3 linked regions of the Homo sapiens genome follow. The protein of the gene in region 3 interacts with the protein of the main gene of each other region in a biochemical or structural test. Each region holds a gene or a part of one and is shown on either strand. Other genes may lie near its edges. The genes, in order: MYO1C, UBASH3A and RNF41.

Region 1 (2,652 bases), on a different chromosome or scaffold from region 3:
ACAGGGTCTCATTTTGTCACCCAGGCTGGAGTGCAGTGGTGAGATCTTGGGTCTCATTGCAGCCTCAACCTCCTGGGCTCAAGCAATCCTCTCATCTCAGGCTTCTGAGCAACTGGGACTACAGGCATACGCCACCACACCAGGCTAACTTTTTTGTATACAAATTCTGAGATGGAATTTTGCTCTTGTTGCCCAGGGTAGAGTGTAATGGCGCAATCTCGGCTCACCGCAACCTCCACCTCCCGGGTTTAAGCGATTCTCCTGCCTCAGCCTCCCAAGTAGCTGGGATTACAGGCATGCGCCACCACACTCGGCTAATTTTGTATTTTAGTAGAGATGGGGTTTCTCCAGTTGGTCAGGCTGGTTTCGAACTCCCAACCTCAGGTGATCCACTTGCCTTCGCCTCCCAAAGTGCTGGGATTACAGGCGTGAGCCACTGTGCCTGGCCTTTTTTTTTTTTTTTGAGATGACATCTCACTCTGTTCCCCAGGCCTGGAGTGCAGTGGCATGATATCAGCTCACTGCAATCTCCACCTCCTGGGTTCAAGCAATTCTCCCGCCTCAGCCCCCACTAGTAGCTGGTATTACAGGCGTGCACCACCACGCCCGGCTAATTTTTGTGTTATTAGTAGAGATGGGGTTTCACGATGTTGGCCAGGCTGGTCTCGAACTCCTGATCTCGGGTGATCCACACACCTCGGCCTCCCAAAGTGCTGGGATTAAAGGTGTGAGCCACTGCACCCAGCCTTTTGCATTTTTTTAGTAGATGGGTTTTGCCATGTTGGCCAGGCTGGTTTCAAACTCCTGGCCTCTGGTGATCCACCCGCCTCAGCCTCCCAAAGTGCTGGGATTATAGGCATGAGCCACCGTGCTGCCACCTTTACAACTTTCTGCACTGAGGGGCTCTCTCTGGCCCTCATGGGTGGGCCAAGGGATGGAAGAGGTGGTATGATGGCCTCTGGATGAAGGCCCATGGTGAGGTGCCTGGGCTCTGCCAAGCACAGCCAAGGAAGGCTTGGCTATCACAGCCAGGCCATAAGCGGGAAAGCAGGCCCCACTCACCACAGCCAGGTGCCCGTTCTTGGCCTTGGTGATGAGCAGCTCCGAGCCGGGTGTGAAGTCAATGGTGCCATCCCTGCCGGGGCCCCCTGCAAACGTGATGCTGGGGGAACGGGGTGGGTGAGGGTTTTTCCATGGAGGCAGACCCCCAACCCTAAGGTGGACCCCCACCCTGTCCCTGGGTGCCCACACAGCCCCCTCGCCACCCCCGCCCTGTCCCCGGGGGCCGCCCGCGCCTCACCTGCCCTGGTTGATGTTGATGCTGTTCACGCGGTTGGCACTGAGGGCTGTCTTGGTCAGCGTCTCAATCACGTGGTCACTCTGCAGCACCACATCTCCCTGGGGGGCCAGGCAGGAGGAGGGGTCAGGCCCTGCCCAGAACTTGAGGAACCCCCGCCCCACCTCCCCATCCACCTCCTGACCCCCAAATCCACCCCCATCCACCCTCCCACCTCCCCATCCACCTCCTGACCCCCCAATCTACCCCCATCCACCCTCCCACCTCCCCATCCACCCCCACACCCCCTATTCCCCCATCCACCCCACCTCCCCATCTACCTCCCCCATCCCCCACCACTCCTCCCCATCCATGAAAAGGCACCTTTTGCTTATTGTCCGCACGCTGTACATGAAGCACAAAAAGACTGTCGCTCAGGCTGCTGACAGAGATTCCTGAGGGGAGAGGGCAAAGGTCAGAGGTCGAGGGTCAGAGCAGGGCCCTCCCCCTGCAGCCCTGGACCCTGGCTGACCGGTCAGGTTGGCGTAATCAATCCTCTGCTTGACTTTGGCGTCCTCCACGATGACGACGGCGTTGGGCGTGAGCAGCAGCTGCCGGGAGCGAGGCTTGTAGCCCTTGCGGTCGTATTTCACAACAGGCACCGCATACTGGGGACAGAGGCCAGGCTGAAGGGGCTGGGGAGAGGCTCCCAAGGCTCCGCCCCTGCCCTGACCTGCCTTCAGCTCTCAGGCAGTAGCACCGTGCTGCTGGACTCAGGGCTGCAGGCAGGCTCTTACCTGAATGGGCTCAGAGCCCAAGGCCTGCAGCACTCGGGGGCTGATCTCATCTGTACCTGCAACTCAGATGGCGGGGAGGGAAGTCAGTGGAGGCAATGGGGGACCAGGATGGTGACGAAAGGTCTGAGTGCTGGAAAGTCAGGGGCTCACCAAGCCGAGTGCTGATGAAGAGCCTGGGTACACTCTGAGGGTAATTATCCTTCTTGCCCTTGAAGATCTCACTAGCCACGGCCTTCTGCTGCAGCTGAGGAGACAAGGGGGGTGAGGAGAGTGTCATGGTGGGGAGCACCATCTTGGGGGGGCAGAGCCAGCCTTAGGACCTGAGACAGCCTCCCTCACCCGCTTGCTGGTCCCTCTCTGGCTCAGCACCAGGAGGCTGAGCCCTGCCCCCCACACGCCCATCAACCCTCCACTTCCTGACCCTCTGCCGCCACCAAGCACTCCCCAGCGGGGTCATGAAGGCACTGCGGGGTTTTGAAACTGGCCTTGGTAATGCTTCCCCACCCCATCAGGCCCTGGTGGCCCTGAGACTCAGCTCCAGCTTGGGGTCTTGTAAGCAGCAGATCACTAATACTCAAG
Region 2 (3,652 bases), on a different chromosome or scaffold from region 3:
CAGTATGAGCTTAGTGCTCTCTCCTTGGCCTCTCCAGGGAAAGATTATTTAGACTCATATTCAGAATCATCAAAATTCCCTTCTCTCCAAACACCAGCCCTGGCCTGGAGACCAAGGCTACCATTGGGGTTTAGTGGAAAGGATTGTGGACTTGACGTCAGAAGATGTGATTTTTTTCTGTGTCCCTGATGAGTGGCATGACCTTAATCAAGTCATGTCCACTCTCTCTGTCTCTTTTTCTTTCTCTACAAAACAATGAGGGCTCTCACTCTTCAAGAACAATGTTGCCTGAGTCTGTGGCCCATCCTGCCATAGTTCCCGGGACACAGAAGGCACTCAGTATTGCTGAGATTTGCCGACTCTAAAATCTGACGAGGCCGCAGTGCCTTGGTGGGAGGGCTCCCCACTTTCTCTCTCTGGGAGCGTGTCTGTCTGTGCTCAGACATGTATGAAGCACAGATCCTGGCCTGTAAATCCATCCCTGAATCCTGGGCTTCCACTTGGATGGCAGCTTGTGAGTCTGGAGATCGAATCTGCTGAATAATTAGAAAGTCGCCCCCGGTCTTTGTGGATTAGTATCCTTTATCAAATGATGGCTCTTTCACACCCAGGCCCTCCCCCAGTGAACCTCATTGGCAGCATCTTAAAAACAGGAAGACTGAGGCTGCAAAGGGTGAAGGGCCTGCCCAAGGTCCTGTGGTGTGTAGAGCGGTGTCCCCTAAAAATGTTTGTCCACCAGGAACTTGGGAATGTGACCTCACTTGGGAATAGGGCCTGTGCAGATGCGATTGGTTGGGAGGAGGTCACACTGCATTAGGGTGGGTTCCCGTAAGGGTAGAGGCCGCACAGAGACACAGAGAAGCCATGTGCCGACTGAGGCAGAGACTGGAGTGATGTAGCCACAAGCCAAGGGACGCCTGGGGCCACCGGAAACTGGAAGAAGCCAGGAAGGACCCTTCCCAGGAGCTTTCGGGGAGAGCACAGCCCTGCCAACACCTTGATTTTGAACCTCTAGTCTCCAGAAATGGGAGGCAATACATTTCTGTTGTTTGAAACCAATCTAGTCCCCTAACCAGGCTGGCGGAGCAGGGACCTGAACCCACCTCTGTCCTGCTCCATGCTGCCTGGGTTCATGCTGGGCAGCCCCACTTCCTGTGGGAGCCAGCGTTGACCTCACATCTACGCCCCGACCCTAAGCAGGCTGTGTCCTGCCCTTCCATGGCCCATGCTCTCAGCCTGACACCGAGGGGGTGGAGGGGACTCTCTCAGTGATGAGTGACCAGTCACTGCTCTGAAGTGGCCGAGGTCCCTCTTGGGGCAAATGCATGAGGCCCCCTTGCCCGCGTTGGTCCTCCCCAGTGAAACGTGCCCATAGGCACAGGTCCGCAGAGAGAAGGAAACGCAAGGACCCGTTCAGAAGTCGGTGTGACTCACTCTGACGTCAGCAACCTGCAGTGGGTCTTTCCCAGGCCACACTCACTCGCATGGCAAGGCGGTCCTCCCCGACTGCTAAAAACAAAAGTCAGGAAAGGAATTTCCCCACCACCTACACACTCATGCTGCTCCCCACCACCTACACACTCATGCTGCTCTGGGCTGTGCAGCCTCAGTGCCCCAGCTTTCCTAGAGACCGTGGGAGCTTCCCATTTGCCTCTAAAGGCTCACCTCTCACGTGGGAGACAGCAGTGAGCCCCAACTTCGGGGCTCCAGGGAAAGGCTTGCATCAACCTTGACCTTTTTTAGGGGGTGAGCAGATCCTGTTTGTAAGTGCCCTGCCGTGGAGTGGGGGCAGGGTACGTCTGTGCACCGACACGGCGTCTCTAGCAGGAAACTTTAGGTTAGGAGGCTGATTTCCCACTGCAGCCTTGGCGAGCAGGCGCTGCCGTCCTCCAGCAGATGCTGCTGAAGCAGAAATTGGGCAGGCCCAGAGGCTCAGTCAAGGTCACCCTGCAAAAGGGGGCAAAGTGCAGCCTAAAACTAGGTCTATCTGACACCAAAGTTTGTGTTGTTCCCGTCAAGACACAGACCGCCTCCCTAGGACATAAAATACTTTGTGGCTCAACTGAAATCAGATCCTGGCTGCTTTGGTGATGCCAGCTGCTCTGCTCAGACTGACCTGAGAGCCCCTGGCAGGACCAGGGAGGGCTAGGGCCACAGGGGCAGAGGACACCCAAAAAGACCTGAGGCTCAACCACTCCCAGGACTTCCTGCTTCACCAAAACAAGGTGAACCTTAAAGACACTGTGTGTTTTATAGTTTTGTTGCCTAAAGAGTTTTCTTCTTGAAACTCTACGATTAAACAAAAAGCCGTTGAACTGGAGCTCGGGCCTGCAAGTCCAGGCCACTGGGTAACGTGCACACCCCGGGGAATGGAGGAGCCGTTTACTCTGTGCATCTGAATCGTGCATTCGGGCAGCTAGCCTGCAAACCGATAGGCCCCCGAGACCCTGAACCCACATCTCCATATCGTCCTCTTTCCTACTTCCTGGAAAAATCTACAGGGATCCAGCCATCTCCTTTATGATGTGAGTTCTGAGCGGGCCAAATGAGCTCTGAGTTCTGAGAGCCCTTGCCTTGTGGAGGAAGCATGGAGGTCGGAGGAAGGAGACATTTAGGTAACGGTGTCCTGGCACCCTCTGTGTTTCCCTGATTTCACAGACTGCTCCGTGAAGCCTTGCACCAAACAGCTGCATCTGACCTTGGCCCACAAGTTCTACCCCCACCACCAGAGGACGCTGGAGCAGCTGGCCAGAGCCATCCCCCTGGGCCACAGCTGCCAGTGGACCGCAGCACTCTACTCCCGAGACATGCGCTTTGTGCACTACCAGGTGAGAGAGCTGAGCAGGGGCTCATAAGAAGCAGATGAATGGGCTGGGCTCGGTGGCTCACGCCTGTAATCCCAGCACTTTGGGAGGCCGAGGCGGCGGATCATGAGGTCAGGAGATGGAGACCATCCTGGCTAACATGGTGAAACCTCGTCTCTACTAAAAATACAAAAAATTAGCCAGGCACGGCGGCGGGCACCTGTAGTCCCAGCTACTCAGGAGGCTGAGGCAGGAGAATGGAGTGAACCCGGGAGGCGGAGCTTGCAGCGAGTGGAGGTAGCATCACTGCACTCCAGCCTGGGCTACAGAGCGAGACGTCTCAAAAAAAGAAGCAGATGAGTGAACGGCCACTCACCTGACAGCATGTACCCCCTGGAGCCCTCCAAGGGAGATATGTTAGTAGCAAGGAAAATTTCTATTGCTTCTCTAAAGCCATTCTCTTTCTTGTGCAATTTACAACCAGCATTCTTTTATATGTGAGTTAGAGATGCACAGACAACAAAATAGAAGCATTTCCAATATTAGAAAAGGAAGCTGGGTGTGGTGGCTCACACCTATAATCCCAGCACTTTGGGAGGCTGAGGCAGGTGGATCACTTCAGGTCAGGTGTTCGAGACCAGCCTGGGCAACAGGGCAAAACGCTGTCTCTACTAAAAATACAGAAAATTAGCCGGGCGTGATGGCACGAACCTGTAATCCCAGCTACTCGGGAGGCTGAGGCAGAAGAATCACTTGAACCTGGGAGGTGGAGGTTGCAGTGAGCAGAGATCGTACCGTTGCACTCCAGCCTGGGCAACAGAGCGAGACTGGCAAAAAAAAAAAAAAAA
Region 3 (3,652 bases):
GACAGAGGAAGACTCCATCTCAAAAAAAAAAAGAAAAATAGGCCAAGCATGGTGGCTCACGCCTATAATCCCAGCACTTTGGGAGGCCGAGGCGGGCGGATCACAAGGTCAGGAGATTGAGACCATCCTGGCCAACATGGTGAAACCCCGTCTCTACTAAAAATACAAAAATTAGCTCAGCATGGTGGCACATGCCTGTAGTCCCAGCTACTTGGGAGGATGAGGCAGGAGAATCGCTTGAACCCGGGAGGCAGAGGTTGCAGTGAGCCAAGATCGTGCCACTGTACTCCAGCCTGGCGACAGAGCAACACTTTGTCTCAAAAAAAAAATAACATATATATATATAATAAATATGTATATATTATATATACCTTATATTAATATATAAGGCAGGTATCATTTTCCCTACTTGACAGTTGAAGCAACAGAAAAACTACAGCAGGGTTACTTGACTTGTTTAAATGTGTAGATTTGGGGGTGGGCGCAGTGGCTGGTGCCTGTAATCCCAGCACTTCGGGAGGCTGAGGTGGGAGGATTGCTGGAGCCTGCCCAGGAGTTCAAGACCAGCCTGGGCAACATGGCAAAACCCCATCTCTACCAAAAATACAAAAATTAGCCAGGCATGGTGGTGTGTGCCTGTGGTCCCAGCTATTTGGGAGACTGAGGTGGGAGGATTGCTGGAGCCTGCTGGGAAGGCGAGGCTGTAGTGAGCTATGATCATGCCACTGTACTCCAGCCTGGGCAATAGAGCAAGACCCTATCTCAAAAAAATAATAATAATTTATGTGGGCCAGGCGCGGTGGCTCACACTTGTAATCCCAGCATTTTGGGAGGCTGAGGCGGGTGGATCACCTGAGGTCAGGAGTTCGAGACCAGCCTGGCCAACATGGTGAAACCCCGTCTCTACTAAAAATACAAAAATTAGCCGGGCATGGTGGTGGGTGCCTGTAATCCTAGCTACTCTGGAGGCTGAGGTAGGAGAATCACTTGAACTCGGGAGGCCAAGGCTTCAGTGAGCCAAGATCGCGCCATTGCACTCTAGCCTAGGTGACAGAGCGAGACTCTATCTCGAAATAATAATAATAATTTATGTGAAAGCACTTTGGAAACATTAAAGCAGCATCCCCAGCCTTTTTGTGGAAGATAGTTTTTCCACAGATGGTGGGCGAGGGGATGGTTTTGTGATGGAACTCTACCACCTCAGATCATCAGGCATTAGATTCTCATAGGGAGTGGGCAACCTAGATCCCTCGCATGGGCAGTTCACAATAGGGTTCATGCTCCAATGAGAATCAAATGCCGCTGCTGATCTGACAGGACATGGAGCACAGGCCTTAATGCTCGCTTGTTTCCTGCTCACCTCCTGCTGTACGACCCGGTTCCTGATAGGCCACAGTCTGGTACTGGTCCATCTGGGGATTTGGGGACCTCTGCATTAAAGCATCATCCTGTACACATAATGTATTATGGATCTATGCATTTTGCTTTTTTTTTGAGTCAGAGTCTTGCTCTGTCGCCTAGGCTGGAGTGCAGTGGCGCGATCTTGGCTCACTGCAACCTCCGCCTCCTGGGTTCAAGCAATTCTCCCTGCCTCAGCCTCCTGAGTAGCTGGGATTACAGGCATCTGCCACCATACCCGGCTAATTTTTATATTTTTAGTAGAGATGGGGTTTCGCCATGTTGGCCAGGCTCATCTCCGACTCCTGACCTCAGGTGATCCACCCGCCTCGGCCTCCCAAAGTGCTGGGATCACAGGCGTGAGCCATCGCAACCTGGATCTATGCATTTTGTAGTCACAGATTTGGAATCATTATTACTGGTAGTTATGTGCACTGAATAAAAGAATCTTAAATCTCCAACAACTCCTCTACTTTTCCTCTTGTCTTTTTTTTTTTTTTTTTTAAGACGGAGTCTTGCTGTGTCGCCCAGGCTGGAGTGCGGTGGCGCGGTCTCGGCTCACTGCAAGCTGCAGCTCCTAGGTTCACGCCATTCTCCTGCCTCAGCCTCCCGAGTAGCTGGGACTACAGGCGCCTGCCACCTCGCCCAGCTAATTTTTTGTATTTTTAGTAGAGACGGGGTTTCACCGTGTTAGCCAGGACGGTCTTGATCTCCTGACCTCGTGATCCACCCGCCTTGGCCTCCCTAAGAGCTGGGATTACAGGCGTGAGCCACCACGCCCGGCCTCTCTTGTCCTTTTCTTTCCCCCTCCCAGCTATGTTCAAATCTACTGGACCCCGTGTGTGTGCTTCCTTAGCTGGTGAGCTCCCTCCTTAGAAGGTAGTCTTATTTGCCTAGCACTGAAAACTGTAGTGCTTAATGGAGTTGTCTCATCCTCCCCAACCAACTGCCAGATCCATCTGTCCAGTCTCCTTGCCAAGTGGAGGTAGTTCTCCTGACTCTCCTTTCTCTTCCTTGTTCCTATTACTAGAGTACTCCTGATTGTGACATCACATTCATCCCCTGGGCGATGGAGCTTGTCACTGGGAAGGAATACTCAGTCGGAGAATAGCCAACAAGATGGGTTACTGGGAGAATCTCTTCAGTGGCACTGAGTGGAGGCATCAGGGGGTTGGAGCCTTGTGAACAGGGAACCTGCCCCCCAACACTTGGAAGGTAAAGAGCTTTGATTCAGAATCCCATTCCAGGCCTCAACCCTCTTCTCTGTCGCTCGGGATTCCTTCTGCCCTTGAAAGTCCAGTTCTTAAAACTTCTTTCTGCAGAAAGCTTTCTGTGATTAATCTGTACCATTTGTTCTTTTTTGTATATTTACAACTTACATAAATTATTGACTTTTACTTGTTAATAATTTGCTTAATACGTTTATGTGTTTTTATGTGTTTTTTTTCCTATGTACTCATTGGGCTCAAGCCTACACCTTAGTTTGAGGACAAGGATTATGTGTTTCTTCTTTTTTTTTTTTGAGACAGAGTCTTGCTCTGTCGCCTAGGCTGGAGTGCAGTGGCATGATCTCAGCTCACTGCAACCTTCACCTCCTGGGTTCAAGCAGTTCTCCTGCCTCACCCTCCCAAGTAGCTAGGATTACAGGTGCCCACCACCATGCCCAGCTAATTTTTGTATTTTTAGTAGAGATGGGGTTTCACCATGTTGGCCAGGCTGGTCTTGAACTCCTGACCTCAGGTGATCCACCCACCTCGGCCTCCCAAAGTGCTAGGATTACAGGCGTGAGCCACTGCGCCCAGCCAGTTGTTTACTGACCTCTTCTTTGGGTTTGACCTTTGGGAGCCCAAAGAAGGGGCATGGCGCCATTGCCGCTGTTTGAGTCCTTGCTCTTTTGGACCTCTCTTTTTTTTTTTTTTTTTTTTTGAGACAGAGTCGTGCTCTGTCACTGGGCTAGAATACAGTGGTGCAATCTCGGCTCACTGCAACCTCCGCCTCCTGGGTTCAAGCGATTCTCCTGCCTCAGCCTCCCGAGTAGCTGGGACTACAGGTGCGCACCACCACGCCTGGCTAATTTTTGTATTTTTAGTAGAGACGGGGTTTCGCCATGTTGGCCAGGATGGTGTTGATCTCTTGACCTCATGATCCGTCTGCCTCAGCCTCCCAAAGTGCTGGGATTACAGGCATGAGCCACCATGCCCGGCCCTCTCTTCTCTTCTTTATCCCCATCACCACCACCACCTAAGTTCAGACT

The links.
Region 1: the proteins of RNF41 (region 3) and MYO1C form a complex in vitro, tested with the Homo sapiens proteins (one study listed by BioGRID).
Region 2: the proteins of RNF41 (region 3) and UBASH3A form a complex in vitro, tested with the Homo sapiens proteins (one study listed by BioGRID).

The regions. Positions count from the first base shown.
Region 1 is NC_000017.11:1,466,180-1,468,831, forward strand, and holds part of MYO1C (unconventional myosin-Ic), read right to left. Parts: intron 2,318-2,652; coding exon 2,224-2,317; intron 2,130-2,223; coding exon 2,074-2,129; intron 1,945-2,073; coding exon 1,809-1,944; intron 1,732-1,808; coding exon 1,661-1,731; intron 1,399-1,660; coding exon 1,301-1,398; intron 1,163-1,300; coding exon 1,063-1,162; intron 1-1,062.
Region 2 is NC_000021.9:42,413,784-42,417,435, forward strand, and holds part of UBASH3A (ubiquitin-associated and SH3 domain-containing protein A), read left to right. Parts: exon of another isoform or gene 1-2,525; intron 2,526-2,658; coding exon 2,659-2,828; intron 2,829-3,652. UniProt on the Homo sapiens protein: Interferes with CBL-mediated down-regulation and degradation of receptor-type tyrosine kinases. Promotes accumulation of activated target receptors, such as T-cell receptors, EGFR and PDGFRB, on the cell surface.
Region 3 is NC_000012.12:56,215,390-56,219,041, reverse strand, and holds part of RNF41 (E3 ubiquitin-protein ligase NRDP1), read left to right. Parts: intron 1-2,428; 5' UTR 2,429-2,613; intron 2,614-3,652. UniProt on the Homo sapiens protein: Acts as E3 ubiquitin-protein ligase and regulates the degradation of target proteins. Polyubiquitinates MYD88. Negatively regulates MYD88-dependent production of pro-inflammatory cytokines.